Regions from separate parts of the Homo sapiens genome. Here regions 2 and 3 are each linked to region 1. The links come from fine-mapping of genetic effects on gene expression. A gene starts in region 1. Each other region holds a variant in brackets. All regions are shown on one strand. Distances are between the middles of the regions.

Region 1 (4,241 bases):
CACCCAGCTTGGAGTGTAGTAGCACAATCTCGGCTCATGACAACCTCTGCATCCCGGGCTCAAGTGATACTCCCACCTCAGCCTCCAGAGAAGCTGGGACCACAGGCGCGAGCCACCATGCCCAGCTAATTTTTTGTATTTTTGGTAGAGACGGGGGTTTCGTCATGTTGCCTAGGCTGGTCTTGAATTCCTGACCTCAAGTGACCTGCCCGACTCAGCCCCCAAAGTGCTGGGATTACAAGCATGAGCCATTGCGCCAGGCCTACTCTCCTAGACTTTGGTTAACCTGACCCCAACCAGTAGCAGTATCTGGGACTGTTTAATGTTACCTAACTACTTCAGTATGTCGCATTAACAACATTTAGCAAGCAAGTCAAACAATCTCTGTTCTTTCTTTCTTTTTTTTCGAGATGGGGTCTTGCTCAGGCTGGAGTGCAGCGTTGCAATCTCGACTCACAGCAACCTCCGCCTCCCAGGTTCAAGCGATTCTCTCTCCTCAGCCTCCCGAGTAGCTAGGATCACAGGTGCCTGCCACTGCGCCTCGCTAATTGTTTTTGAATTTTTTATAGAGACGCAGTTTCACCAAGTAGCCCAGGCTGGTCTAGAACTGCTAAGGTCAAGTGATCCGCCCGCCTTGACCTCACAAAGTGCTGGGATTACAAGTGTGAACTGGTTAAATAAATCATACTAGATTCAGAAAATACATACTACAAAAACAGAATGAAATGGATTTGTCCGTTTTCATGTGAAATATATCCCAGACACAAAGTGAAACCACACTAGTGCAGAGTATATACACATAGTATGCTCACATATTACATACAAGAAAAGATACACGTTGGCCGGGCGCGGTGGCTCACGCCTGTAATCCGAGCACTTTGGAAGGCCGAGCCGGGTGGATCACGAGGTCAGGAGATGGGGACCAGCCTGGCTAACACAGTGAAACCCCATCGCTACTAAAAATACAAAAAATTAGCCCGGCGTGGTGGCATGCGCCTGTAGTCCCAGCTACTAGGGAGGCTGAGACAGGAGAATTGCTTGAACCCAGGAGGCAGACAGAGCAAGACTCCGTCTCAAAAAACAAACAAACCAAAAAGAAAAAAAGAAAAAAGGTACACGTATCTGCGCTTAAAAAGTAAACCTTTCTAGAAGGAAAACTCTGTTCCCCTCCGAAGAATGGGACTGAGGTAGGGAACGAAAGAGGGCGTTGTTTTTTATGCTATGCACGTCTATCCTGTTTGCTATCCTTACAAAAAAAAAAAAAAAAAGAAGGAAAACAAAAGAAAAAGGCCTTGTGGAAGCATTATTTCTATGTAAATGGGTTTCAAAATGAGTTTCAAAACGGGTTCTATTTTGAAAAGTAAGGTCAACATTTTTTGAGAAAAAAACTCCTGCGATTGGCTTTTCAAAAACAACCCTCTTAAGAGAGAATTTACATACCACAAATTCACCCATTGTATAGTGTAGATTGTTAACTGCCTTTCGTGCCGAGCTGTAAGAATTTATTTGGCATGAGAAACAAAATATTTTATAGAACCATGCACAAGAATAGCCTTCGTGTCTACGAAATCTAAGGATATCAAAATGAGATAATTTTATGACTGCAACAAGGGTAAATAATACTTGGCCTTGGGAATATGGGGGAAAGGTCAGAACTACAAGATCTCATAGAGCTTAACCACACCAAAAAAGAAAGAGAAAAGAAAGAAACAAAGAAAACAAAACAGAACGAGCAGACTCTAGCAGGGCTAATGACAGTCTTCCAAAGGCACCAGCACGTTGAACAAGCTGCGGCTCAGCTCGATGGACCCCCAAGAGTGGCTGCCACTGGGAGGACTTGGGCCTCTGAAACAAAGCCCGGTGGTTTCCTTTCATCTCTGAACTTCGAGCTCGACCTAACTTTCCAGTCCCTTCCCCCACCGCCACCCCATAACCCGCCCGAAGCGGCCCACGGAGGCCGGAGGTTTTGGGGCGCAGTCGCTCAGCAGCCCGAGGTCTCTGTCCCGGGCGGCGGGAGGGAAATGCCGCGCCCGCAGCCAGGGACCCGCGTGCCCAGCTTCGGCCCCTCGCCCGCGAAGTCCGACCCGGGTGACAGCGCACGGCCGGCCCTGGGCCCAGAGCTCCCACCTGTGCCCCGCAGCATGTTGTCCCGGAGCAGGTCCCCGCTGGAGAGGTGCTTCAGCTCGAAGTGTGTAGTGATGCGCGACGACACGGTGCCCTTGCCCGAGCCCGGGGCCCCCATGATCACCGCTCGCAGCAGCCGCGCGGACGCCCCCATGGCCGCAGACTGAGGCCCGCACCGCGCGGGTACCAGGGCTTTGGCCTGGCCTGCGCGCTCACCCGCTCGGCAGCCTGCGCCGGCCGGCTAGCAGCGCCACTAGCAGGCGGCTACTGCGGTTCCCCGGCGTTCCCGGAAGTGAGCCGACAGCCCCTGGGGCCGCCCAGACAGCGCGGGACCCCGCTGTTGCGTCCGCCTCTCGGCTACCCCGGCGCACCCCCCGCCCCCGACCGAGCGCCTGTTCCCGCCCAGCCGCGCAAGCCGCGCAAGCCGCGCCCCCTCTGCGCTCGCTCGGCCGCCCAGCTCCCACCTGCGCCTCTCCGCGGCCCCTCTCCACCGGCCGCTGGGCCCGGATCCCTTCGGCGCCCCTCTGCACCCACCCCCACGCGCCCTCCACTCGGCTCAGATCTACCTCCGCGCCTCTCCGCGACCCCGGAACCCCGCGCCCTGTCCGGCCCATTCCCAGCCGGATAGACCGCGCTCCCCTCTGTCCGACCTTGGCAACTCCTGCGCGCCCCCTCCCCACCTCTAGTCGCCCCTCGGAGCCGCTTGGTTTCGGGATCCACCCGCATCCACCCCTCCAACAACCCTTTCGTAGCCCTCGCCCCTAGTCCATAGCAGGCGCTGCCCTACCCAGTCCTTGCCGGACACACCGCGACCCCTTTCGTGCTCCCTTGACAACCCTGGCCCCACCTCCACCTGGCGCCCACTCGAATCCGCCCCTCCCTTCTACCCCCCTGGACCGCCAGACCCCCCGCTTCTGCACCCACTCCCGCCTTCGCCCTTCCCTCCTTCCTCCTCCTCCTCTGCTGCCGAGCGCCCTCTCTTCCCACTCCCTCTCTGTGTAGAATCACAGGGAGTGACCTTGAGCCGAGAGGGCCTACCTCATTTTACAGGAGAGGAAATCCAGCTTCCATTGAGTGAGACTCTTTTATAAATAACGTAAAAGAGTGTGTGAAACTGTGGAGGCAGGCTGTTGTAGATAGGCGGTCGGAAAAGCTTTGAAGAGATGGCATGTGTGCTGAGTGCTTAATTAGAATATGGAAGAGAGAGACATGGGCCCTTCCTATGTCCAGTTTTAGGAAAAGGCCCTAAAACTGGAGGTTTGGCATGTTTCAAGAATGGAAACAGAGGACAAAAACGTTCGAGTGAGTATCATTTTGCCTGTAAAATGGGCATAGAGGAGTAGAATGGAGGAGTTAAAATAATGTAGTACTTAGTGCAATGCCAGCTACGGGGTCAATGTTCAATAATGGTTGTCCATTTATCATCATTGCTTTGTCCCGGACACTATGCTAAGGCAGAAAGAAGGCTCTCTGAAAATAAAACACAGTTACCATTCTCCTCAGAGGTCCAGAACTGATTTCAAAGAAGATAGAAATGACTTCAGGGTGAGACAGTCAGTGAATCGTAGCTGAGTGAATGGATGGGGGATTTCAATAGGTAGACAGCCTGGTACTTAGAAAAGGCATTAGCCTTTATACTTTCTGGTGTGGAAAAGAAAGAAAGAAAATACATACCTTGTACATTTTTTTTTCTTTGAGACAGAGTTTTGCTCTTGTTGCCCAGGCTGGAGTGCAATCGGCTCACGGCAACCTCTGCCTCCCGGGTTCAAGTGATTCTCCTGCCTCAGCCTCCCGAGTAGCTGGGATTACAGGCACACGCTACCGCACCCGGCTAATTTTATATTTTTAGCAGAGACAGGGTTCCTTCATGTTGCTTAGACTGGTCTGAAACTCCCGACGTCAGGTGATCCACCCGCCTTGGCCTTCCAAAGTGCTGGGATTACAGATGTGAGCCACCGCGCCCGGCCTCGTTTTGTTTCTTTGAGACGGGGTCTTGTTTTGTTGCCCAGGCTGGAGTGCTGTGATGCGATCTCAGCTCACTGCAACCTCTACTTCCCAGGTTCAGGTGATTCTTATACCTCAGCTTCCCGAGTAGCTGGAATTACAGGCACCCGCCA
Region 2 (4,241 bases), 24 kb before region 1:
GTCTCGCTGAGTTCTACGTGTGGGAGCTGAGAATGAAAAGACTGAATTCGGCCGGGTGTGGTGGCTCAAGTCTGTAATCCCAGCACTTTGGGAGGCCAAGGAGGGTGGATCACTTGAGGTCAGGAGTTCAAGACCAGCCTGGCCAACATGGCGAAACCCCGTCTCTACTAAAAATACAAAAATTAGCAGGACATGGTGGCACGTGCCTGTAGTCCTAGCTACTGGGGAGGCTGAGGCATAAGAATCGCTTGAACCTGGGATGAGGAGGCTGCAGTGAGCTGGGATGGCACCACTGCACTCCAACCTGAGAGAGAGTGAGACTCCGTCTCAAAAAAAAAAAAAAAAAAAAGAAAGAAGGAAAGAAAAAGAAAAGAAAAGCTTGAATTAACAGCAAAAGGCAGCAAAAGCCAGAAGGAGCCTAGAAAGACTTCTAAAATATCTCCTAAGACAGGGGCCCGTGTCTTTCACTTCATCTTCGCAGCTTTCCTTAACTTCCCTTACTACTTTTTTTTTTTTTTTTTTTAAGACAGGGTCTCACTCTGACACCCGCGCTCTAGACTGCAGTGGAGCAATCATAGATCACTGCAGTCTTGACCCACTGGGTCCAAGCAATCTTCTTACCTCAGACTCCCCAGTAGCTGGGACTATAGGCATGTGCCACCATGCCTGGCTAATATTTTTTTTTATGTTTTGTAGAGACAGAGTTTCACCATGTTGCCCAGGCTGATCTTGAATTCCTGCCTTTTCGATCCTCCTGCCTTAGCCTCCCAAAGTGCTGGGATTACAGGCATGAGCCACTGTCCCAGGCCCCTTCCCATATTTTGATATTTTGACAGAACGAATCCCAACAACCCCTGGTACTTCACTGCTTTGGGGGATTATCATTCATAGCCTTGCAGTGGTGGTGTTATCTGCCCAGCAACAATGCATTCTCCCTTCCTCTGGTTACCTTTGGGAAATAACCTCTCCACCAAACTCAGTCGACGAGGTTCAGGAGAGACTGTCCCCACTCCCCATCTTCAAGGATGGACATGATCAGAGCTAATCGGTGCCGACCCCAAGACTTTTGCTGGCAAAAGAGGCTCTTTGCTGCTGGGGTTTCTGGCTGGTAGGAGGTAAACTGGAAAGCTGAGGGGCTGCTACACAGGGAGGGCACACCTGAGACTGAAGCCAGCACAGGACAATGGAGCGGAGTGACTGACGCCTGATGATAGGTGTTTTTGAACACCTGGACCCATCCATCTATCTTTGACTTTTCAGTTACATTACCAATAAATTCCCCTTTTGCTTAACCTGGTGTGAATTAGGTTCTTAGTTAATATAAGCACATATCATATTGTATGATAAATACTGTTTACCCAGCTCCCCACCTCACCCACAAACATAGCTTCTTGGAGCCTGACAGGGACTGGATCTAATTGTCCATGTGGACCAAGGGCCTAGCACAGTGTCAAGAGAGTGAACAATAATTGCTGACAATGAATGATTTAATAGACACCAGGGCTGTTGTAGGACTTTCCAGGATCTCTCACTTAATTCTTTTAACAACCCTATAAAGCAGATGCTATTTAATATTGCCTGATTTTACAAATAAGGGATTTGTGGCATGGAGGTTAAATAGCTTGCCTAGGGCAAAAGAGACGGTAATTTTCAGAACCAGCCTCATTAAACAAATGACAAAATTATAGTAACAGCTACTACAAAAAATGGTTTGCCAACCTTGTAATTTTATGCTCCAGAAAAAATTAAGATGGTTTGAAAGGCCAGGCATGGTGGCTCGTACCTGTAATCCCAATGTTTTGGGAGGCCGAGGCAGGAGGGTTGCCTGAAGCCAGGAGTTTGAGTAGCCCGTGCAACATGGCAAGAGCCCCAGCTCTAAAAAAAATTTTTTTAATTGGCCAGGTCTGGTGGCACGGGCCTATAGTCCTGGCTACTTGGGAGGCTGAGACAGGAGAATTGCTTGAGCCCAGGAATTCAAGGCTGTAGTGAACTATGAAAGAACCACTGCACTCCAACCTGGGTGACAGAGTGAGACCCTGTCTCTAAAATAAATAAATAAATAACAGTTTGGAAACTATTGCTTCAGATTTCTACTGCATACATACGCTATTACAACAACAATAACAATAGCTAACATTTCTATAGTGCTTTCTATGCGTCAGGCCCAGTTCTAAGAGTTACCCATATTAATCTTTCAAACCTTTATTCTCTTCCCCAATTTACAGAGGAAAAAACAGGCAGAGGTTAAGCAGAAGGTGAAGGTGAAGAT[G/A]GTGAGCTGGGACTTGAACTTAGGTATTCTGGCTCCAGAGTCTGTGTTCTGCCCAAGATACTGTTCTGCCCTGATCAGGATCAGTATTCAATAAGTACATAAATGAAAGGGGAGGCAGTCAATCCTCTGTAAGAAGCAGGAAGGCTCAGTAAGAAAACTGGAGTATTTCTTAGCCTAAGTCAAATACTCATTCAGTACGGTTCCTATACGTGTTGCAGACAAAACAAGAGCAGACAAAACAATGTTAAAATGTAAGCTTTTAAAGACTGCTAGCCAATTACATAGTCTGAGGGATTAGCTGCCATCTGAGATTCTTCCACACCATAGCATCCTGTATTGGCAAATGTGGTGGGCAATATTAAGTTTGCCTCCCCAGCATTCATTCCAGCCCTGCCTCCCCTACCGACAATCCCCAGCTTACAATTATTCAATGCAGGATTTTTCAGCTTTATGATGGTGCGAAAGCAACATGCATTCAATAGAAATTGTACCTCGAGCACCTGTACAACCATCCTGCTTTTCAATTTCAGTACAATATTCAGTAAATTATGTGAGATATTCAACACTTTATTACAAAACAGGCTTTGTGTTAGATGATTTCGCCCAACTGTAGGCTAATCTAAGTGTTCTGAGCATGTTTAAGGCAGGCTAAGTTATGGTGCTTGGTATTTTCAAATTACAATGGATTTATTAGGATGTAATTTCATTGTAAATTGCGGAACATCTGCACATAGCAGAGTATGGATGAGACTGTCGCACTGCCAACTCTAGAAGTGGACTAGTCAGTGTAATCAGTGGAATCCTTCCCACCCCAATGACTGGTTCTGCAGTAGGCAGTAACCCAAGCCTGTAACAGTTAGTGCCAGGCATTCCCTGACTGTAGTTCAAGTTGGCTCCATCCGAGTGGTGCTCTGGGCTTCTATTCACTGGAGGAAAGGTTACCCCTCAGCCCTTCATAGAAGAGGAAGCCCTGGCTGTTCCTACAAATGTCTGCTACCATGCAGGAAGCCTAAGGACAAAGCCAATACACACACAGGAAGGCAAAACCAAGAGAACGGCTACACTGATCAAACCCAGGTGTGACTGAAGCCCAACCTACCTTCTGGACTTCTGTTACACAAGCTAATGTATTTCCTTTATTACTTAAGCCCATGTGAACTGGGTCTTTTGGCATTTTAGCATTTCAGCTGTAGAGGAAGGAAAATCAAAACTAGACTTAGTGCACCACTACGCAAGAGAAGTTCTGAAAAGCAAAAACTCACTGGTAATATTCCAGGACTGGCTTTGTTTGGTCTTCATAAGCCTTTAGTCTCTTGATAACCGTCTCTGGTTTATCATCCTCACGCTGAATGAGAGGCTCCCCAGTCAGGTCATCAATGCCCTAAACAGGATTAGAAGAGACTAGTATCAGATATCATATTTCTGAAAGATATTTTCATAAGCAGTTCAATTATTTTTAAACAGACATCTCTGTGCAAGTGCCAAGCACAAAAATGTGCTAACTTTTAAAAAAATGGAATCCAACCTCAAAAGAGATCATCGCAACAGAAACAGGGTACGCCAGTTTCATTTCTACAGTTATCAGTCACTTTAGCCTTAGAGTAAAAGGTTTTCTAAGCAGCCTCTAAGTAAGTTCATATATATTCAAAAAGATTCAGCTATAAACTTGGAATTTCAACTGCAAGTCCTAAATAAACCAAGGTGTTATGAATCTCTATCAGCGCAACTCCTAACACACTCCTTGGCAGAGCAGGAAATCAACAAATGTTTTTGAATGAGTAACAAACCCCTGCTGCTCCTGGGGCAACCTTTCGCACCAAGCTCAGTGGACTTGATCAGTCAACTCTACCAAGTAACCTGAGAATATACCCTCAGGAGTTTTGGTCAGAGGATTTCCAAGTTCACTCAACTTATGTCTGTTAGGGCAAGAGGACTCAGGGACAGTCTGCTATGTGACAGTTCCACAACAACT
Region 3 (4,241 bases), 32 kb after region 1:
GCACCACAAGGCAGGGAATCTTGTCTGTTAAGGTCACCATTGCATCCTTCCTGCCCAGCACAGTGCCTGGCACAGAGTAGTTAAATCAATAGTTTTTGGGTGAATGGCATTAGGCCAAAGAGTTTTGATTTGAGTCAGTAAGCAATTTGGAGCTAACACACATTGTAAAGAAAAAAAGGACTGAAAACATAAGGATACTTTAGGAAGAATAATGAAGGCGGCTGGATGGAGATTAATTCTGGTTCTCCTTTATTAATAGCTTCCCAGTTGATAGGGCCTAAGGTTGTGACATGAAATTTCAAAGGGAGGGGCTGGAATCCTACAGAGGGTTTAAAGGAAGAATCAACAGAATTGCTATCTTCTTTGGCCGGGTGCAGTGGCTCATGCCTGTAATCCCAGCACTTTGGGAGGCCGAGGTGGGTGGATCACTTGAGGTCAGGAGTTTGAGACTATCCTGGCTAACATGGTGAAACCCCATCTCCACTAAAAAAAAAAATACAAAAAATTAGCCGTGCATGGTGGCGGGCGCCTGTAGTCCCAGCTACTCAGGAGGCTGAGGCAGGAGAACGGCGTGAACCCAGGAGGCGGAGCCTGCAGTGAGCTGAGATCACGCCACTGCACTCTAGCCTGGGCGCCTGGGCGACAGAGCAAAACTCCGTCTCAAAAAAAAATTAGGCATGGTATCCCACGCCTGTAGCCCCAGCTACTCAGGAGGCTGAGGCAAGATAAACCCTTGAACCCGGGAGACAGAAGTTGCAGTGAGCCGAGATCGCATCATTGCACTCCAGCCTGGGTGACAGAACGAGACTCTGTCCCCCTCCTAAAAAAAGAATTGCTATCTTCTTTAATATGACTTATTTGTTTGTTTGTTTATTCAGAGACAAGGTCTTACTCTGCCACCCAGGCTGGAGTGCAATGGCATGATCATAACTTACTACTACCTCTAACTCCTGGGCTCAAGTTATCCTCCTGTCTCAGTCTCTCAAGTTACTGGGACTACAGGTGCACACTGCCATTTCCTACTAATTTGTAATTTTTTTTGTAGAGATGGGGTCTTGCTATGTTGCCCAGGCTGGTCTCCACTCCTGGCTTCAAGTGATCCTCCTGCCTTGGCCTCCCAAAGTGCTGGGATTACAGGTATAAGCCACCACACCAGGCCCTTGAATATATTGATAAGAAGAGAGAGAGATGCATTGATGTTGTGAATCTGGTGGGCCAGAAAAATAGCATTACCTGTCTCTTCCGAAAAATGGCATGACTGGGAAGAACCTCAAATTTGAGTGGAAGATGAACTCAGTTTTTAAACATGTTGAGTTTGAAATGACCATAAATATTTTCTATGGGCTGCTGAAAAAAGCCTAGCTGGAAACATTTTTTGACATTTTGGTCAGCAATGGAACAATCACGGAGTTTATTATTACTGATTTCCTTGTTTGTAAGGTCAAGAAATTAACATAGATTCTATAATTCCAGCAGGAAGAAGAGAGTTAAATTTCTAAGAATCCTAAATTCTGTTCAACAGAATTTAAGAACACAACCAAAGTAATTTTCAACCTAGTTTTAAAAATTTTTATTTTTAGAAATGGGGCCCCACAGTGTTGCCCAGGCTGGAGTGTAGTGTCTACTCACAGGTATGACCATAGTGCATTACAGCATTGAATTCCTGGGCTCAAGCAACCCTACTGCCTCTGCCTCCTGAGTAGCTGGTACTATAGGTTTGTGCCACTGCACCTGGCTCCATTATTATTATTTTTTTTACATCAAACATGATCATTAATAAGTATACCATTATCTATTGGATAATACAAAGAATTTATTGTAAGAGTATTTGCCCTGATTTAATTTCTACTTTTGTATATTTTTCTGTGTTTTCTAAACTTTCTATGATAATGTAGTATTTTTATAAATCAGGAAAAAATAGGACACTTTTTTTAAGAAAAAGAAAAGACTCACTGTGTCAATTTCTGAATATCTTTGGGTTAAGCTTTTGCCTTACGTACACTAAACATATGTAAGCACCGAAGCTACAAAATGTTCCCAGAAATCCCTGGAAATTTCCCTCTAAGAAGTACACACATGTTGATATTTCCTGGAATTCATTGCAGCTAGTTTCCCTTTTCTGGTTTCAGACTGCTTTGGTCCCAAAACTAATTCGGCTGGAATTATGCAATAAATCCATT[T/G]TTCCAATACTTCTCCCTGAAGGGAAAATTCAGGGAATTGTCCTTTTTTAAATTATTACAGTTCCAGACCTAAATATTAGCCATTCTTCTTGATGTGGCTTTGATTTCTTAGACAACTGTCACATGAAAGGTGTTTTTTATGGGTTTGCTTTACTGTGCTAGGGCTTCTATTTTACCAGCAACCAGTTTGGGATGTGGTGGAGTTGGGGATATGACAAGGAAGGGGAGTAGAGAACAGTGCATGCCAAATGCAGAGACTTTTTTTTTTTTTTTTTGAGACAGAGTCTCACTCTGTCACCGAGGCTGGAGTGCAGTGGCACAATCTCGGGCTCACTGCAACCTCCACCTCCCGGTCCAAGCGATTCTCCTGCCTCAGCTTCCTGAGTAGCTGGGGTTACAGGCACCCGCCACCACGCCCGGCTAATTTTTTTGTATTTTTAGTAGAGACGGGGTTTCACCGTGTTAGGCAGGATGGTCTCGATCTCCTGACCTCATGATCCACCCGCCTCGGCCTCCCAAAGTGCTGAGATTACAGGCATGAGCCACTGCGCTCAGCCTCGCAGAGTCTTTTTTATTGTACTGAAGAATGGTCTACCAGACTTACAGGTGGACCCCAGGTCAATGACTGGGAAAGACAATGGTCTGGAATGACATTGAGGAATAGTGTACAAAACCGGGTATATTTCACTAGGATGAGAAGGTGGCATATTAGGGCTTTATTGCATGAGGGGTTAAGTTTGCTCCCATAACCAAAGCATTGCAATATGAGGAAGAAAGAAGTCAACTTGCCATGCAAAAAAGCATGTTTAAACAGAGTTATCAGGAAATGGACCACAATGCCTCACGTGGCATAAGCTGTCAATCCATGGGGGTTTACAATAAGACCCTAGAAGACCATGCTCTGGGTGTGGTGTATAGGGGAGCTGTGTGTTGGACAGAGTATTGGGCTTGGTCATCTCCAAGATCCCTCAAGCCCTGAAAACCTATGATTCCATGAATAATTAACAACTTAATTGACCTGTAAGCTGATATTAATTCCATAGATCATACATGTTTTTCTCTCAGTTACAGAGTAATCGTTTAGTACCTCTGTGCTGTTTCAAAGATAATACGTTTCCAATGTCTTCAATTGCATCAAAACCTGGGGTCTCCATAATATAGAGCCAAATTAAAGACTCTTTGCTTTATCAGTCAAGATAGGCTAGGTTATGTTACACTAACAAGCAACCACCAAATTTCAGTAGCTTGAAACCACCTCGGTTCATTTCTCACTCTGGCTGCTTGTCCTTGGGGAGTTGATTGTTGCAACATAGTGGTTCCTACTCCAAGACCCAGGCTGATGGAGCAGCTACTGGAAAAATACTGGTTGCCATGACAAAGGAAAAGAGGAGCTTCAGCATGAAAGTGACACAAGTAACTTCTGCTCACATTTCATTGGCCAAAGCAAAACACATAGTCACACCTAGGATTGGATAGGCAACATAGTGCATAGGCCTTATTTTAATGGGCAAATAAAAATATTTATATTATAAATAGCATATAATTTATAATTTTTAAAAATTTAGATGTGAGCCGGGTGCGGTGCCTCACATCTGTAATCCCAGCACTTTGGGAGGCCGAGGTGGGCAGATCACTTGAGTCAGGAGTTTGAAACCAGCCTGGCCAACATGGTGACACCCCATCTCTACTACAAATACAAAAAAATTAGCCAGGCATGGTGGCAGGCGCCTGTAATCCCAGCTACTTGCGAGGCTGAGGCAGGAGAATGACTTAAACCCAGGAGGTGGAGGTTGCAGTGGGCCAAGATCGCGCCACTACCCTCTAGCCTGGGCAACAGAGCGACACTCTGTCTCAAATAAAAAAAAAAAAAAAAGAGAGAAAAACTTAGATGTGAGTAGAACTTTTTTTTTCTTTCTTTGTTTTATTATTATTATTATTATACTTTAAGTTTTAGGGTACATGTGCACAATGTGCAGGTTTGTTACATATGTATACATGTGCCATGTTGGTGTGCTGCACCCATTAACTCGTCATTTAGCATTAGGTACATCTCCTAATGCT

The links. PIP is the estimated chance that this variant, and not a neighbour inherited with it, causes the effect.
Region 2: its variant is the best candidate, but not a certain one, in a credible set for the expression of AK3 in whole blood (TOPMed, PIP 0.88).
Region 3: its variant is the best candidate, but not a certain one, in a credible set for the expression of AK3 in cerebellum (GTEx, PIP 0.64).

The regions. Positions count from the first base shown.
Region 1 is chr9:4,738,810-4,743,050 of GRCh38, forward strand. It overlaps AK3 (adenylate kinase 3), which reads right to left and starts at 2,393. Exons shown (of 5, transcript NM_016282.4): 1 at 2,128-2,393. The coding sequence starts at 2,278. RefSeq lists silencers at 1,923-2,062, 2,293-2,782.
Region 2 is chr9:4,714,888-4,719,128 of GRCh38, forward strand. It overlaps AK3 (adenylate kinase 3), which reads right to left. Exons shown (of 5, transcript NM_016282.4): 4 at 3,532-3,650. It overlaps LOC124902112 (a long non-coding RNA gene), which reads right to left and starts at 3,525. Exons shown (of 2, transcript XR_007061401.1): 1 at 3,369-3,525; 2 at 2,187-2,395. The variant G/A (reference allele first, on the strand shown) is at 2,270.
Region 3 is chr9:4,770,900-4,775,140 of GRCh38, forward strand. No RefSeq gene overlaps it. Among named protein-coding and RNA genes, the nearest start is that of RCL1, 20 kb to the right of the region's middle. The variant T/G (reference allele first, on the strand shown) is at 2,181.